2 separate regions of the Homo sapiens genome follow, and region 2 is linked to region 1. Evidence: fine-mapped expression QTL. A gene starts in region 1. The other region holds a variant in brackets. All regions are shown on one strand. Distances are from middle to middle.

The links.
Region 2: its variant is fine-mapped to the expression of LINC00899 in skin (TwinsUK, PIP 0.95).

Annotation. Positions count from the first base shown.
Region 1 is chr22:46,040,630-46,049,745 of GRCh38, forward strand. LINC00899 (long intergenic non-protein coding RNA 899) reads right to left here and starts at 4,239. Exons shown (of 4, transcript NR_027036.1): 1 at 3,980-4,239; 2 at 2,934-3,070; 3 at 1,945-2,011; 4 at 1-423. LOC124905135 (collagen alpha-1(III) chain-like) reads left to right here and starts at 4,015. Exons shown (of 2, transcript XM_047441696.1): 1 at 4,015-4,378. PRR34 (PRR34 long non-coding RNA) reads right to left here. Exons shown (of 2, transcript NR_165243.1): 2 at 7,902-9,116.
Region 2 is chr22:46,022,836-46,031,362 of GRCh38, forward strand. No RefSeq gene overlaps it. Among named protein-coding and RNA genes, the nearest start is that of LINC00899, 18 kb to the right of the region's middle. RefSeq lists an enhancer at 5,925-6,478. The variant T/C (reference allele first, on the strand shown) is at 4,223.

The DNA of each region.
Region 1 (9,116 bases):
GGACTGCTATGCCCACTGGGCACTGCAGAACTTCTGGTGCGTGTGGCTAAGGGGAGTCGGGAAGAGCCCTGTCCCTGGACCAGACCTTCCTGTTGGGAGTACTGGGACCCAGTGACCTTGTGCACCTTTCCTGAAGCTTCTGGGCCCCAAGTGGTCGAATGCAGAGTGGGCTGGGGAGTCACAGACTGTGCTTCCTGCTTTCAACCTCCGTTCCAGGTTCCTGTGCGTTCCGTGGGCCCATCCACCTGGCTGGGCTTGGCTAGGCTGTGACCTTCTCTGAGGACAGGGCTCTGCCTGCATTTGGAGCTGCTGGGACCTCAGTGTCACCCCCCACTCTCGCCAGCTGGCCTCACAAAGGTGCCCAGGAGGAGACCTGATTGCCGACTCCTTTCCCCTCCCTGGCTGAGCAGATTCTACAACAGCCTGTGGAAATTAAAATAAGAGCTTAAAACTGTCAAAAAAATTTTTTTTAACCAAGTCACAAATGGGAAAGCTGAGGCGGCAGCAGGTTAAGGACACTTTGTGATGTAGCGTTCTCTCCCAGTGCTTTCGTACTGTAAACATCACAGTCCACGGTCCCTGTGAACAGGCAGCCACAGAGACTGGGTTTAGACTTGCCGGGGAAGGCTGCATCCAAAGTGGGGCCAGCTCAGAACTATTCCACCACATGGGGGGCCATTAGTTCTGCTCAGTTCTGTGGGGCCTCACTAGTGTTTCTATTTAAAAATAAGTCAAGGTAAAAGAAAAAGTTTCAAAATGTAACAGTCACGTATCTATTTCTGTAATTGTAAAGAAATACACTGTCATGTGACGGCTGGAGGCTCTGGAGCAGAGGGCCTAGGAGGAATTTTTTTTCTTTTTCTTTTTCTTTCCTGAATTCTCCAAACCGTCTATCACAGTGTGTATTGCTTTTATAACGGGAAGAGATAAAATAGACTTACATTAAAAATAATCAAACTGCACCTGTGCCTACATGTCAAATGATAAACGTGACAATCAAAGGCACTTTTTATTTATCGAATACCTGGTTCATGCCACATCTCCTGCTAGGCCCTCCCAGCGTGCTGGCTCCTCAGAACACCCTGCAGGTGGGAGCTGGGCACCAGGGTCCCTGAGGCAGCATTCAGCACCCACGTGGCAGAGCCAAGGCTGGACAGGGATGATTCCAACATCCAGGATTGTATTATGCTTATAACGACTTCCTGCCTGTTTGTATTTAAGACAAGGTCTCTCACTGCAGCTTTGACCTCCCGGGCTTGAGCAGTCTTCCCACCTCAGCCTCTGGAGTAGCTGGGAGTTACAGGTGCACACCCCCATGCTTGGCTAATTTTTGTATATTTTGCATAGACAGGGTTTCGCCGTGTTGCCCAGGCTGGTCTGGAATTCCTGGGCTCGTGCGATCCACCAGCCTCGGCCTCCCAAAGTGCTGGGATTACAGGCGTGAGCCACAACGCCCAGCCCCTGTCTCTTAAAGGTGAACATTTTCCCTAAATACAATGATCTTCAGTTAAAATATTTGTATCTTACATAGAATCTGGAATTATTTCTGTAAACAGAATTTAGTAAAAGAAATATAAAAATCAGCTGGGCACGTTGGCTCACGCCTGTAATCCCAGCACTTTGGGAGGCCGAGGTGGGCGGATCACAAGTTCAGGAGATCGAGACCACCACCCTGGCCAACATGGTGAAATCCCGTCTCTACTAAAAATACAAAAATTAGCTGGGCATGATGGTGCGCACCTGTAGTCCCAGCTACTCAGGAGGCTGAGGCAGGAGAATCGCTTGAACTCGGGAGGCGGAGGTTGCAGTGAGCCAAGATCGCACCACTGCGCCACTGCACTCCACCCTGGTGACAGAGCAAGACTGTGTCTCAAAAAAAAAAAAAAAAAAAAAAAGGAAAAAGAAAGAAAGAAAAAAAGAAATATAAAAATCATAGATTTTTACCTTATTTTACCTTATGACACTGTTGACCAACAGCCAAAGTCAGAATCAATTATGTAACTCTCAGAGCCTAGAACAAAATGAAAATATGGGTTCCCTTGTTCAAGAATGACTAAGAATTTTAAGACCGGGGACAGCCAAACATTGAGTGTGGGGCCCTTCTGCACACCGGCCCTCTACCACTGGGCAAGCCACACAGCCACAAAGTCAGCCCTGGACAAGTTATTGATAGTGTATGATAGAACTAAGGTGACGGTTCCCTTTGGGACACACTCTAATCACCAGTGACCACCAGTCAGAAAACAAATGGGCTCAAGCCGCAGGAAGATGAGCCGTTCCCAAGGCATTTTCCAATCCAAAAAATAGCGGTCGCAGCTCAGGAATGAAGTTCCCAGTGAGGATGCAGCGGGAGACACAGCCAGCCTTCCCTCCCCAGGAAAGGGCCAGGCCCTGCATAGGAGCTTTCATTAAAAACCAGGGAGGCTGCAGATTCTCTTGAAATGACAACACGCTCGTGCCACACCTCGATAGAGCTTCAGTCACTCTGCTGTGGAGCGTGCGAGGCTGACCATCCTAGGCCTTGGGGAGAAATCATGACAGCTGATGCCAGTGCTTGTTACTGGGAAAACACAGTAAGAAACTTCATCCCTAAATGTTTATACCTACTATGTACTCACAAAAATTTAAAAAAAGATTTAGTATGAAAATGTAAAGTATCTCATTAATCTTTATCTTGATCGTATGTTGAACTGATAATATTTTGGATATATTGGTTTAAATAAAATATATTAACTAAAAAAAAAAAAAAGGAAAACTTCATCCCGCCGCCTCTGAGAAAGGATCTTGGGGTTCATTGGCAGGTAAATGCTCCCCCAAAGGAGGTCCACTGTGGATGCTGGAAACGAACTGTCAGCTGACAAGCATCTGTAGCTCTGAAAACAAGGGCTCCACACATTGTCCCAGCCAGCGCCCCACCAGCCCATCCCCATTACCTCTATGTCTTCAGCCCCACGTCAGGTTCTGGAAGTTTCCAGGGGGAGTGGACAGTACCCTCAGGGGCTCTTGGGGCTGAGACCTCTTCCATGAATCACGTATGGAAGCCCAGGACCAACCTCAGAGAGGATCATGTCTGAGAAGTCGTTTGAGGGGAAAAATATCCACTTAAGAGAGAGGTTCTCCAGCCCTTTGGAGCATCACACACGTTTGTGGGACAAAAGACAAATATTCCTCCCACCCCAATCCCCAACCAGGCTCCTTGTTCATTTTTCTTTAAAAAACAACAACAAAAAAAAAATCCGCATTCTCCCCAGCCTGAAATAGTGCTCTGGAGGAGCTGGCCTGGCCCGGAGTGTCTTCTCCGTAAACACACCTGGTGAGGAAGAACAGGAAGGACGGACAAAGGGAGGCCTCAGGCCCAGCTGGCAGCCAGATCTGTGCCTCCCAGCGCCTCCAGGGCCCTTGCAGTCTCGAGAGATGTGGCTTGGCCACTTTTGCAGATTCCCAGGCCTGGGGCCACTCAGTTGCCTCCCCCAGCCCAGGTGTCTCCTCGGGACCCTTGCCTGGGAGGGTTTGAAGCCAGGCAGGGAAAAGAGGGCAGAAAATGGTGGTGCCGGGGAGCTGGGCCGGGCCAGCAAATCATTCCGCAAGGTGGAGAACTGCAGGCTGAGGGCACCGTGGGCCTGGGCCCGGGACCCAGCATGGAACCCCTTCTCCTGGAGCACCAGGGGTCACAACAGTCCCTCCACTCCAGGGATCACGGGTGACCCACGGCCGGGTGCTTTGGGGACGAGACAAAGACAGCGTGTTCCTCAAGCCCCTGCCTACCGCTCCGTCACTGGGGCCATGGTCTGCGTGCCAACAACCTTTTAGGAAGCATCTTGTGCCCAACCTCACCACCCCGCAAAAAAACCTGTGTCCAAAACACTTGGCAGTGGGGCTTAAAACGCTCAGGTGCCCCGAGGAGGCGCCGGGAGATGAGCCCAGAGCGGTGGCTGGCGAAGGCCCCAGCAGGACTGGGGCGTGGAACTTGCTTGTTTACCTAAGAGAAAAACACGACGAAAAAAGCTTCTGGGTAGAATTGGAAGTTCTGGGGCTCTCGGCGCCGCGGCCTCCGCGCGGTTCTCTTCCTCCCCTCCCCGGCCTGCTTTTCCTCCTTCTTTCCCTCTTTGTTGCCAACCTCGGAGCCGCGACTGAAACCCAGCCCAGCGTGTCCGCGAAGCCCGGAAACTTCCAGCTCCGCGACTGTGCAGAAAGTTGGGGGGCGCGGCCGGGGTGACAGCAGCGCTTCGGGGGCGGCCGCGGCGGCCACCCGGACCTCGGCCTCCCGCGCCTCCCGCTGCCCCAGCCGCGCCCGGGGACCTCGGGCAGCCCGCGGGCCGGACGTGAACTTGACCCTGCGCTGTGCCCGCCTGGACCGCGGCGCGCTCGGGACGATCTGGTAAGCGCTCCCCCTCCCGCCCTCGCCCGGCGGCGCTGGGGTCCGGGTCGGGGTCCGGGCTCGACTGCGAGGGCGTGTCCCGGGGTGGCGGGCGCCGGGGCTCCTCGGCCGCTGCACCGGAGCGCACGGCCGAGCCCGCGGCCCGGCCCCCGGCGAAGTCAGCCCCCAGCCTCCCAAACAAAGACTCGCAAAGTTCGGAAGAGAATCTTTCCCGACATTTTCCCTCCCCTCGGGCTCTGCGCTGCGGCCATCAGGGCTCTTAAAAGAGAACCGAGAGCTCTCTGGTTTTCTCCTGGTGTTTTCTTCCCTGCGCTTTGCCCCCCACCTTTGGCTGGAGGGAAGGAGGAGGGGGCATGGATGCCCCTCGGGCCCTCAGGTGTTGACCCTCCGAGGCCAGGCTGCCCAGGGGCAGCACAGGAGGTGAGGGCCTGTGGGATGAGGGACCCCCGACAGCACAAGGAGGCAAGCCCCTCGCCGCTGCAATGCTCCGGTCCTGGGGCTCAGGTGGAAGTTGCTCCTGATCCCCCCACACCCCCAGCACCATCCTGAGTGACTTCCCTTGACCGTCCTGGGTGACCATCCTGAGCAAGACTCCCTGGCCACCAACTGTCCTGTCGGCTCTGCTTGGGGCAACCACAGTGCCAAGTGAGCCTGGCAGGTGCTGGGTCACAGGACAGCCATGGACAGGGCCTGGGGAGGAGGAGAAGCTGGGGCCCTGTAGAGCCTGTTCCTTGGGGAGCAGGTGAGGGACCCTGCTGCCTCCCCTATTCCTGTCTGCAACAGGCCCAGCCCATACCTCCAGCTAGCTTCTCTGCATGCCACTCTCTCCGCCTGAGACAAGGCCTCTGTCCCTGTGACTGGTCTGATCCCTGGGGGGCACTCCTGGGATAGAAACCTACCCCACCAGTCGGCGGTGGCAAAGCCCTGGAAACTCACAGACCTGTCCTGGGCCTGGGCCTCCACAAGCCTCCCAGTTTGATCAGGTGCCCCCAACCACAGCAGGGACCATCTGTCAGGTCTTACTCCCAGTGGTGGCCAGGTCCCCAGCCTTCCAGAGAGCATTGCTAACTTGCCTCCATCCCTGGGTGCCTACGCTCCCAAAGTCCTCCTCAGGGGAGCACCCAAGCCGAGAGGGCTGGCCAGCCAGAATCTGAGTGGGTCACCCCACCATGTCCCTGGACTCTCTGGCAGGGCTGTCACAGGGCAGCCTACAGGCGTCAGTTGGAGCACAGAGGGTGTTTGCAGTGACGGCAGGGGACAGAGTGCCCAGTTGGCTCTAGCCTGTTGCTGCCATGAGGATAAGGGCTGAGGCTGTTAGAGCTTCTGACTTCAGAAGAAATCCAGATTTGTACATGAAATGTCCAAAATTTGAGCACATTGCAGGACAGAGGAAACACTCTGGGGTTGAACCCAACCCATGCCCCCACCCCGAGACTGCAACTCCTGTGTACGCCTGAACTGGTTAGTGTTCAAAGAAAGCAGATTTCTTAGTGACCCTGGCCCCAGCCCAAGATTTGAGCAGGAGACCCCGGGGATCTGGGGAGCAGGGAGGCAGGAGAGTCTGTATCTCATGGACCCAGCACCACAGGGAGGGTCGGCCTCCACAGGCATGAACTGTCCAGGTAATTAACACTTGCTCGAGCCCACTTAAAGTTAAAATCTCCCTAAAATGAGGAACCTGACCTGCCCCATCCCCAAACCCTCTGGGGGACCTTCTATACCCGCCCAGGGTATAATGAAGGAAAGATAGGATGCAGAAAGTGAACCTGAACTTGAACTTTCTTCATGTCCCAGGCAGTAGAGTCGCAGCATACCAAAAATCCTGGGCTTATAGGGAAGTTCTGCATTGAGGCAGGCCTGCCTCCACCTGCCAGCGCTACCTCATTCTAGCTGGGTAACCTCACCTCTCTGGGCCTCAGTTTCCTCACTCATAAAAGGGGCTTAATAAGAGTTCTGCCAGACAGGTGTGGTAGCTCACACCTGTAATCCCAGCACTTTGCGAGGCCGAGGCAGACAGATCATGAGGTCAGGAGTTCCAGACCAGCCTGGCCAACACGATGAAACCCTGTCTCTACTAAAAATACAAAAATTAGCTAGGTGTGGTGGCACACAGCTGTAGTCCCAGCTACTCAGGAGGCTGAGGCAGGAGAATTGCTTGAACCCGGGAGGCGGAGGTTGCAGTAAGCCGAGATTGCGCCACTGCACTCCAGCCTGGGTGACAGAGCGAGACTCTGTCTCAAAAAAACAAACAAACAAACAAACAAACAAAACAAACAAAAAGAGTTCTGTATCAGTTGCGTTGTTGGGAGAACGGTGACAATCGCTGTGAACATCGATCACTCCGCTAGCACACGGCAGGCACTCAGTATCAGCGGCTGCTGCTCCAGGGGCCCGTGGCTGCTGGCTTCTCTCGCACATCACCTGCTTCTGGGCAGCTCAGGAATTTCTCTCCTACATCTCATGTCAACTTTGCATCGCTTACCTCACCACCTTCTGGCACTTGTTTCCGTACCCTAAAGGAAACAGTCACTGAACACCTCCCCCACACCTATACTCCTGTATGGAGTACTGGGCACAGAGAGAAAAGACGACAAGGTCCTGCCTTAGAAGCTGCCAGATACCCTGTGCAGTGACACCCTCAGGTGAGCTTCTCTAGGCTAATGCCAGAGAAGGTGTTTCCTGTGCAGCCTTTGTTGAATGCCTCCAGAGACAGGCAGCTCACCACCTATCTGGCAGTGTGGCTGCAGAAGCCGTAGGACAGAGTCACCCAGGCATCCTTGAGCCTTAACTGGTAGAAAGAGATGTAGGACAGGTCCATAGGCAGTGCCCCTGAGTCAGAGGCACCTGGTTTTACTGGAGAAAACACATACCTCATAAGAAACTTCTGAAAATTTGGTGAGGTGTACAGAAAGATTTCAGTCTCCAGAAAAAGCACTGCAAATGCTCACGCATGTTTTTACAGAACAGAGCCCTGTTTCCTCTTTTTGCCAACAGCCCATTTAGCAATGCCAGGGCTGTGCCAGTGACCCCACCCACCTCCTAACAAGGCAGCCACTGTCCCGGGGGACAGCCAATATATGCTTTGATTTTTTGAGGTTAATGTCCTTGGGCCCCTGATTTTGGAAACCCTGGACAAAATATAAGGAGTCACTGCATGGGAAATAAACCTACCCCAGAAAGCTGGCTGCGGCATTCAGGAAACTGGAGAGAAAAGTCAAGGTGTCCGGAGGCCCAGGGTTCCTCGCCAGGATCGGCTATAGAGTTTGCAGGGCCCAGGGTAAGAAGAAAATGTGGCCCCCTGGTTTGAAAATGCCTGAGAATTACAAGGTGGTGACGATGGTGTGAATTAAAACGAGCTTGGGGCCCTTCCGAATGCAGGGCCTTCCTAAGCTCAGGGCCCTGTGCGGTGGTATGGGTCACAAACCCACAAAGCCAGCCCTGCCCCTCACACGTGTTCGTGCCGCATGCTGAGGCCCAGGGAGGGACCAAAGGCAGCTTCAGTGAAGGAGTACAACTCCTCGTCTTTGCCATTCTTTTTTTTTTTCTTTAATGCCATCATTGATGTTCCATGCTCATTTTAGAACACTTTGAGTCCTCAGAAAAGAAAAACATTTGTCAATCACCTATGAAAGCACACTCAGAGATAGCCACTGGGAAGGCCTCACCCAGCTTCTGTCAAAACTTTTTTTTTTTTTTTTTTGAGATGGAGTCTCGTTGTGTCGCCCAGACTGGAGTGCAGTGGTGCAGTCTCGGCTCACTGCAACCTCTGCTTCCTGGGTTCAAGCGATTCACCTGGCTCCAAGCGATTCTCCTGGCTCAGCCTCCCAAGTGGCTGGGACTACAGGCGCCTACCACCACCCCCAGCTAACTTGTATTTTTAGTAGAGATGGGGTTTCACTATGTTGGCCAGGCTGGTCTCGAGCTCCTGACCTCAGGTGACCCACCCACCTCAGCTTTCCACAGTGCTGGGGTTACAGGTGTGAGCCACCACACCTAGTCTGTCAAAACATATTTTAAGCAAAATTAGCATCTTATTAGGTGTATCATTTTATCTTCTGCTTGTTTCATTAATATTTTATCACAATATTTTCCTAAGTCAGAAGATACTGTCTTGCAAATGAACTTTCATGACTATTTAGCATATTCCACTGGACAGAGGTCCTTAACTAACCCCTTATTATCAGGCACTTGGGTTCTTCCCAGTTATTTCCAGTTTTCCCCATTGTAGGCAACACTTCCAGGAACATTTGTCTGCACTTTTCTGATTACTTCCTAGCATGATGAAACCCTGCTTTAGTGGTGGGGCTCCCAGTTAAGTCATTAGGGGTGATATTTTGGCTCCAGAAGACTCTTGGGGTGGTCTCTGAAAAACCCCCTTGGCCAAGTACCTCAGCCCCCATGCCTCATGCAGTGACAGTCCCACACCACAGCCCTGGCATTGCATCTGACTTTTTTTTTTTTTTTTTTTTTGAGATAGAGTCTCACTGTCGTCCAGGGCTGGAGTGCAGTGGCGTGATCTCGGTTCACTGCAAACCTCTGCCTCCCAGGTTCAAGTGATTCTCCTGCCTCAGCCTCCCAAGTAGGTGGGACTACAGGTGCGTGCCACCATGCCCGGCTAATTTTTTGTATTTTTAGTAGAGACAGGGTTTCACTGTGTTAGCCAGGATGGTCTCGGTCTCCTGACCTTGTGATCTACCCACCTCAGCCTCCCAAAGTGCTGGGATTACAGGCATGAGCC
Region 2 (8,527 bases), 18 kb before region 1:
TACTGCTCTGATTTAGCCAATGCCTGCTGCTTTGTACTAGATTGTAAGCACAGAATAACAGAGTCGATATCTGTCTAATTTTACTTTCTGTCTCTAGAAAGTAGCACAGACACCAGCACAGAAGCAGACAGTAATCAAGTTTACAGAAAGAAGGCAGGAAGGGAGAGAGAGAGAGACAGGAGAGATGAAGAAGGAGGAGAAGAAAGGAGGAAGGGAAGGAAGGAGGAAAAGGAGGGGAAGGGAAGGGAAGAGAAGGGAAGGGAAGGGAAGAAAGGAAGGAAGAAAAGGAGGGAGAGAGGGAGGGAATAAGGCAGAAAGGAAGCCCCCAGCCCATCCACATGGAGCAGTTTGCAGTTTGGGACCTCAGGCCTGGCGAACAGAAGTACAGAGCACAGGTCAAAACAGCCTGGGTGTGGAGGGAGGGAGACTCCAGGATGCTAGCGTTTACTAAGCACTTACTATGTGCCCGGCACCGTCCTAATTCCTAATTCCCTGCAGTTTCCACATTACACCCTACGATTGTTATCCGATTTCACACAGAAGGAAACTGAGGCTGGAGAGGTGAAACAGCTTGTCTAGGCACACGGGACCATGAGTAGCAAGCCAGGGTCAAGCCAGGCAGGCGGCTCCAGGGCTGGTTCCTTCCCCTCGCACCACTGAGGTCAAAGGTGGGAGGATGCCGTGAAACAGAGGCCGAGTGTCCACACTCCCTTCCTTCTCTCCTGGGCCCGGAAACCTCTAAGACTTTGCCAATACCCTCTGGTCAGCCCCCACCAGCCCTGGCAGCTGCCCACTGAGCCAGCCCCTCTGCCCAAGGCCCCTCCCTGGGGCGATGGCAGCCAAGGGGGCAAGTCACATGGCTGCCAGCTGGAGCCCAGGCGGCCGATCCACACAGGAGCCCTGTCCGTGATGTCAGCACCACCAAAGCATCCTCATTAACCGCCCCCTGGGTGACGCAGCCCAGCTTTTCTGCGTGGGATGGGTGGGGGACTCACTGAGACCCAGGTGTTCGCAAGAAGCCAGGATGGAAAGTATGACTCGCTCCTTCCCAAACATGGGATGGCTTTTCCATTGCTAATATCCGAGGAATCCGGTGAAGTAGTGGAAAGACCGAGAAGGCGGGAGACTGGTTCTCACCCTGGCCCATCCTGGCTTTAGACCAGAAGCCCAGAGCCTCAGTCTCCCCTTCTGTCCACCAGAAACCACAGCCCTGTCCAGCTCCGACTCTCCAAGGTGCCCAGGTGTCAGTGAGGCTGACAACACAGCAGTCACCTCGGGGCTGCAGCCTTTTAAGCTTTTGTTTGTTTTCCAAGCATGTCTTTGGGAGTGAAGATCCATCAATCATGACATAAATTTCATTTCAGAAGTTATATTTTACTAGTAGGAGTACAAAGGACTCAAGAATTCAGAACTGGATCTCCCTCCCAGACACCCTCAGGATGTCCCAGCCTTGCCTCTGGAACAGCCAGACTTCCAGCAAAATGAGGACCCGGAAGCTGTGCTGCGGCCACCAGTACTGACTGTGCTTCAGGCTTGCTTGCTCCTCACCCACCCTGGGAGGTTGGTACTGCTGTTATTTCCATTTTACAGCGATTTACCTCCCTGCCAAAATTAGACCAACTCTTCACCATCACTTCCTCTAGGAAGCCATCCCTGACTCCCAAGTCTGAGCCAATTCCCTTCCCAGGTGTCCTCCAGACCCTAGAGTGCACTATGCAGTGTGTCCTGCCACATCAAGGCTTCCTCTCCTCTCCTGGTTTTGCCCACTCTGAGAGCAGCAGACCTGGCAGGTAGGGCCCAGCCGCCACTCAGCCAGCCCCTGATAGGTGCACCCCATATTCCTCCTGCCCTGATGTTAGGGGGCCATGGTGAGGACCTGATGCCATGCAGCTCACAGGCCTCCAGCTTTTGGGGCCAGAATCAACCTGCCCATCTCTTGTGCAACCAGCTTCTCCTTAAAGGCACTCAAATCTTGGGACTGAGAAATTAGTGGCCTCCCAACCTGCGACTCCTCAGGAGTTCAAGGCAGGCTTTTTTTTTTTTTTTTTTTTCTTTTAACTCAACTCACCCTCTTCCCCCGTTTCATTTTCCCACCCTGACATTTCCTTTAGCTGGACCAACTTCTATATTTTATTTTAATGTTGGTGTTTCTAGTCCTGCTGGCTACCCATGAGGCAGAATGTCTGTAAATGCAAAGAAATAGGACAATTTGCCCAAGGAAAGGATTTCTTTAAAGTGAATTCTGAGTGTCCTTCCTCTTTCAGAATGTTCCTTCTCCCTAAGTGCTCCCTCCTCTGGAATGCTCCCTCTCCCTGGAGTGCTCCCTCTCCCTGCAGTGCACCCTGTACCCTCTTGCTCCCTCTGCCTGGAGTGTTCTCTCTCCCTGAGTGCTCCCTCTCTCTGAGTGCTCCGTCTCCCTGAGTGCTCACTCTCCCTTGGGTGCTCCCTCTCCCTGAGTGCTCCCTCTCCCTGCAGTGCACCCTGAACCCTCTTGCTCCCTCTCCCTGGTGTGTTCTCTCTCTCTGCGTGCTCCTGCTCCCTGAGTGCACCCTCTCCCTGTAGTGCTCCCTCTCCCTGCAGTGCGCCCTGCACCCTCTTGCTCCCTCTCCCTGGAGTGTTCTCGCTGAGTGCTCCCTCTCCCTGAGTGCTCCCTCTCCCTTGGGTGCTCCCTCTCCCTGAGTGCTCCCTCTCCCTGCAGTGCACGCTGCACCCTCTTGCTCCCTCTCCCTGGATTGTTCTCTCTCTCTGAGTGCTCCTGCTCCCTGAGTGCACCTTCTCCCCATAGTGCTCCCTCTCCCTGCAGTGCACCCTGCACCCTCTTGCTCTCTCTCCCTGGAGTGTTCTCTCTCTCTGAGTGCTCCTGCTTCCTGAGTGCACCCTCTCCCTGCAGTGCTCCTTCTGCCTGGAATGCTCCCTCTGCCTGGAATGCTCCCTCTGCCTGCAACTTTCTGCCCAAAGTGCTCTCCACTCTCTTCTCCTGTTGAGAAGCTGCTCATACTCCTTGAGGCTCAGCTCAGGCGACCGCCTCCCAGGAAGGCTTCCTGGACTCCTCCATCGCCTCCTCTGTTCTCCCATGCACCATGCCCACCCCCTCATGCTTCCTTTCTCACCACATTCACCATCTGTGTCCTTATCTTCCCTCCTCACCTCTCCTGCCTCTAGCCAGGCTCTGAGCTCCCAAATGGCAGACCAGGGTCTCATGCCTTTGGGGAGGCAGGGGTCTGTCCCAGTGCCTAGCCCAAAGGAGGCCTCCGTGAGTCGGCTGCTGAAAGCCAATAATCCCAGGCACCCTGGCTGGGAAGGATCCAGCCCTGTACACCATCCCCATCCTTGAAAGAGTGATCTTATTCATGTATATCTGGAGAAGCTGGAAGGATGCTTAGAGAGCGTCTCTACAACCTCCTCTTTTAGCTCTGGTGAAACTGAGGCCCAGACAGGGAGCATCTTGCCCAAGATCGCCTTCTCTGAACCTCTTCCTCCTGTCCTGAGCCCTTGCCATGACAGAGCTGAGCTCCCCAGCACCTTGGCAGAAATGAACCTGTGTGCACGCTCCCCACCCACACAGGTGTGCGTGTGCGCAGGGACCCTCACAGCCACTGCCTCTGCAAGATGGGCAGGCAGTGCTCACAGACCCCTAATCAGGTGAGGATACCGAGTCTCTGGAGGACAAGTGATGGGTCGCCAGTCAGCTGCGGGGCGGGGACATCAGACTCTGGGTTGTGGCTCTGTCACCTATCACAAATGTGCCCAATCCAAATTTACAGAAGTTGCTGGAATCACCTGGTCAGGCACATGTACATAAAAATCAGCTGCAGCTGCCTACCTGGCACGTGTGCTTTTTCTGTCTTGTCTGTTTAAACCATGTCTGAGCAGGTGGGGAGGGGTGCCGCAGGACACACATGTGGGCCTGGCGCCTTTCTGGGCTCAGTTGAGCACATTGTAGTTTAGCAGCTCTTGGTGAGGTCCCTGTCCTTTCTCTTTGCACATCCACTTACGGCCCCGGAAGACCCTGTTGACAAGCTGTTGTCCCTGTGACCGGGAAACCCAGTGGCAGGGACTGTGGCACAGCACAGAACAGTACCATGCAGTTTTTAAAAGGGACATTGGTAAGAGGTTGATGACAAATGTTATTTTCCAGGAAAAAGTCAAGACGCTGAATTGAAAGTTCACCCTGGGCTGTGAGGAAGAATTTGCCCCAAGGGGAGAGAGGAGGCGAGGGAGT[T/C]CCTCTCCACGCAGCAGAGCTCTCCCTGGGTTGGGACAGTCATTGGGGGCAGCCTTTATTTCCTTACTGATCATTTACAGGATCTTTAAAAATCAACCTAATAAAAGAAAAATAAGAAGGGCAGGAAGGAGGGAGAAGCAGTCACCTCCAAGGGCCTAAGATCTTTTGGACCTGGTCGCAAAGGGACTCTCTCTCCAGGAGGGTCGCCAGGGCCGCAGGGTCCGGGACCAGGCCCAGGGTCCAGCTAAGCCCGGGCCAACACGGGGACACATGCGCACACCCGGACACACCCGCACGCACCCGCACACGCACGCGCCCGTGGGCCGCGCCCCGCCGCGCCGGGGGCCCGCATTGACATTCTGCGCAGTTCCCAGCCCGCGGCGCCGCGTGGGGACAGTGGCGCATTGTTCCCCGGACACGCCGGGCGGCGCAGCGCCCTCGGGGCTTGGCGCGGCCCCGCCGCGATTTGCATGCGCTCCAGTCACAAAGGTTCAAGGTCAGGAGCGCCGGGCGGGGCTGGTCTTCGCCCCGGCGGCGGGAATTCCTCGCCGCCCGCGCCCGGGACGCCCCTGCGCGTGAATGGCCGAGCGCCGCCACCGTCTGAGGTGCTTTGTGTCTCGCCCCGGCCAGCTGGGCCCGCGAGGGACGTGCCAGCTCGGCCGGCGGCGTCCCCGCGCCAGCGCCCCTCGCCCATGCTAATCAGCCTGGCAGCGCGTCTGGGCGGGCGGCCCGGCCCGGCCTGGGAGCCCCTCACGTTCCCTGCCGGGAGCCCCCTCCTACCAGGCCCCCTCCCCCAGCTTCCCCTGCCGCCAGGAGACCCCACTTACTCTGCCAGGAGCTCCCCACGACCCTAGCTGCCAGGTGCCTCCACCCGATTCCACCTCCACTCCTCCTGCCAGAAGACCCCCTCTCCGGCTGCCGTGGGTGCCTTCTGCCCAGCCAGAAGGGCGGGTGCACCTTGCAGGAATGGCTGGCTGGGGAGCCTGGGGCGTAGGACCCTTCTGGGACTCTGACAGGACTCTCTGTGGGGCCTGGGGCATCTTCTCTCAGCCTCGATTTCCCCTGAACAATGAGGCAGGTTGCCCTTCATGATCTCCAGAGGCACTTCCAGAGCTGGGGTCTCCCAGCAGGTGCAGGGAAGGTAGTGGTAAAGATGGCATTCCCCCAGCTCCCGCCTGCTCTGCCATTATCCAGCCTGCTGGCCTGGGGACAGTCACCCTGAGCCCTGAGTCTGGGTCACCGTCTCCAGAGATGCCTTGAGGACTAACGGAGCTGAGCATTCCACGTTGGGACCAGCCCTCAGAGTGTTCTGCCCTTATCATCATCCTTCCCACAGTGTAGCCCTGCTCAGGCAATATTATCATCCACCCGCTAGACTGGGAGCTTCGAGTAGGCAAGGACTTCTGAATTCCCACAGCACAGTGGCACCCAGGACGCACTGAATGACCTCACAGTTGGATAGGTGAAGGCCCACCAGTGTGGGTCACTCTGCACGATGGTGGATGGGGACAGGTCACCGCATTTGGCATTTCCAGTACTTGGAAAGAGGCTCAGAGCCTTTCTTGGGAGGTGGGAGCAGGCTTCTCCTGGGAGCTCCCCACTGGGTGTGTGGGCTCCATTGTCCAACAGGAACGTCCCCACCCCCAAGCCTCTGGGGAAGTGAGCAAGTTGTCTTTCTGCAGAAAGGTGTGTGCAGGAACACAGTGCCTGGCCAGGATGCCCATCAGGAGGTCTAGAGACTGGAACTGCAGACCTGGGGCCTCCGGCATGAGGTTGCCAAGGACCCACAACTTCCTGTAGCACTTTCCTCCTGGCACGTGTGAAGTCAGCGGCCCCACCTGATACCAGAGACAGCCCCCAGTGTTGGGGGCATCATGCTCGAGGGTGCGTTTCCCCCAGAGCACAAGAACCTGGGCCCCATAGACAAGCAGCCCCAGCCAGTCTCAGGCCCAAGAAAGAGGGACCAGGTGAGGCGGTGAAATGGGCACCAAAGGAGAGAAGCCAGCCTCAGACAGACCCTCAGACAGCAGAAAATCTAGCCTGGGGGTTCGAGGCCTTTCCCCAGCCCTCTCTCATTTCCCTCCAAACCTTAAATATGAAGTAGACATAATTACATGTACCTCGCTGCTCTAAGAATCACTTAGGGCCAGACGCAGTAGATCTTGCCTGTAATCCCAGCGCTTTGGGAGACTGAGGTGGGCGGATCACTTGAGCTCAGGACTTCCAGACCAGCCTGGGCAACATTAGTGTGATACCTTGTCTCCACAAAATAATAATAATAATAATAATAAGGCCGGGTGCAGTGGCTCATGCCTGTAATCCCAGAACTTTGGGAGGCCAAGACGGGAAGATCACTTGCGGTCAGGATTTTGAGACCAGCCTGGCCATCATGGTGAAACCCCATCTCTACTAAAAACACAAAATTAGCCCAGCGTGGTGGCACACGCCTATAGTCCCAGCTACTGAGGAGGCTGAGGAGGGAGGATTGCTTGGGCCCCAAGAGGTCAAGGCTGCAGTGAGCCATGATCACACCACTGCACTCAGCCTGAACAAGACCCTGTCTCAAAATACAGAATCACTTAGAAGCCTGGATGTTACCCTCCCTACACTGTGTTGCTAGCATCAGTTTCCTATGCGTCCCTAACCCCGTCCCTGCTTAGCTGGCTGGATACCACCCCCAGCTGTTTTCCAGCCACCCCAGCTTTGTCTTGCACATGGTGCTCTCCTGCCCGTGGAATGCCCTCTCAGCCTGCCACTTGCCAATGAGCTCATCCTGCAAGGCTTGGTTCAGATACCACCTCCTCCAGGAAGATGCCCTTGATCCTTTCCTCCTCTCTTTTCCCACCTGCCTAGGTTTTTGATGCCATGATAAGGAATTCGGCTGCAGATCCTAGGGCAATAGGGAGCCACTGCAGGCTCTAAACAGGGAGCAGTGACCCAGCAACTCTCCCTGGTGGCCTCTGCAGGGAGCATGCAGACAGGGGTTCTCAGACATCCGGAATTCACAGGCTGGTCAAATTTCAAAGGAGTATTGCAGACCTACGGAAGATTGCCAACTTTCTATTTTTCCATGTTAGGGCCTTTAGAAAAATAATTACAATTTCCCTTTTTGAGAGAATATCTTTAAACCAAAAAAAAAAAAAAAGTAAGAAGACAATCTCAGGGCAAAGGCCATTCCATTGTGCTGGATAAACAGAGCCTTATGGAAAACTCGCCACATGGTCCTCACATTTGATGGTTGGAAAACAGCTAGCGGTGGTATCCGGCCTAACAGCTGGAACCGTGATCAGGGCTGGGCCTCCATATAGGTGTGGCCTCCTCTCGGCATCCCTTCCTGCCCCAGACCACAGGTTTCCTGAACCCCCTAGACCAAGTGGGTTTCCTGGCTGGTCCCCTGGCTGCACTCAGGCCCTCTAACCTGGCGGTTCTCAGAGGTCAACCCAGATGAGTATCGGGCTGGCCAGTGTGATGAGCGCCCACCATGGGGAGGCCCCTGGGGCAGCCTGCAGCTCCAGCACTCATGGGTCACTGCAGCCTCGACTTCCTGGGCCCAAGCAATCCTGACTCCAAGATGCAAGGACGCTTATGAGAATAGAGAAGAGGGGACAAGGCACAGATGCCCTCTGTCCCCACAGTGTGAGGCAAGGAGCAAACTTGTGTGTGCATGAGCCTGGGGCCACCCATGGGGGAGGGAATGCCTGATGCATGACCAGCCTGAGTGGAGCGTCCACACTGAGCCTTGCAGATTGTTCTAGAAGGAGATTCATCCTCCCTTCCAAGGGCAGGCTCTACTGTGGATGTTCTGCTGATCAGACAGTGGGTACTATCAGTAATTAGCATTGAAATCCTGCGCTCAGCCTCAGAGCTGGGAGGCCCAGGGTGACCACTGAGGACAGCTCAGCATTGAAGAGAGGCCTGAAGATGATTAGGGGCAGGGTTACACTGGTTACACCTGCTCTATTAGGTGACGTGAATTTGTAATCTTGTTTCCAGCTTTCCTTTGCCTTTTAATCCTTCTTTGTCAAGAACAAAATTCAAGCTATCCTGTTACCAAATGATCACATGTTTGAAATGTGAGGTCTGGAATAATCTCCGACCAGTGCTAGCCCATGTATCAGTGCTCAGCCGCTCGCTTTAACCAGGCTGTGTTGTCCTGGACTTGCCCCTCCAAATATGATGTGACTCAACACTCATGTCAGGCCCTGGGCTAGGCACCGAGGACGCTCAAGACACAGTCCTTGGCCGGGCGCGGTGGCTCACGCCTGTAATCCAGCACTTTGGGAGGCCAAGTTGTGGGGGGGGGGG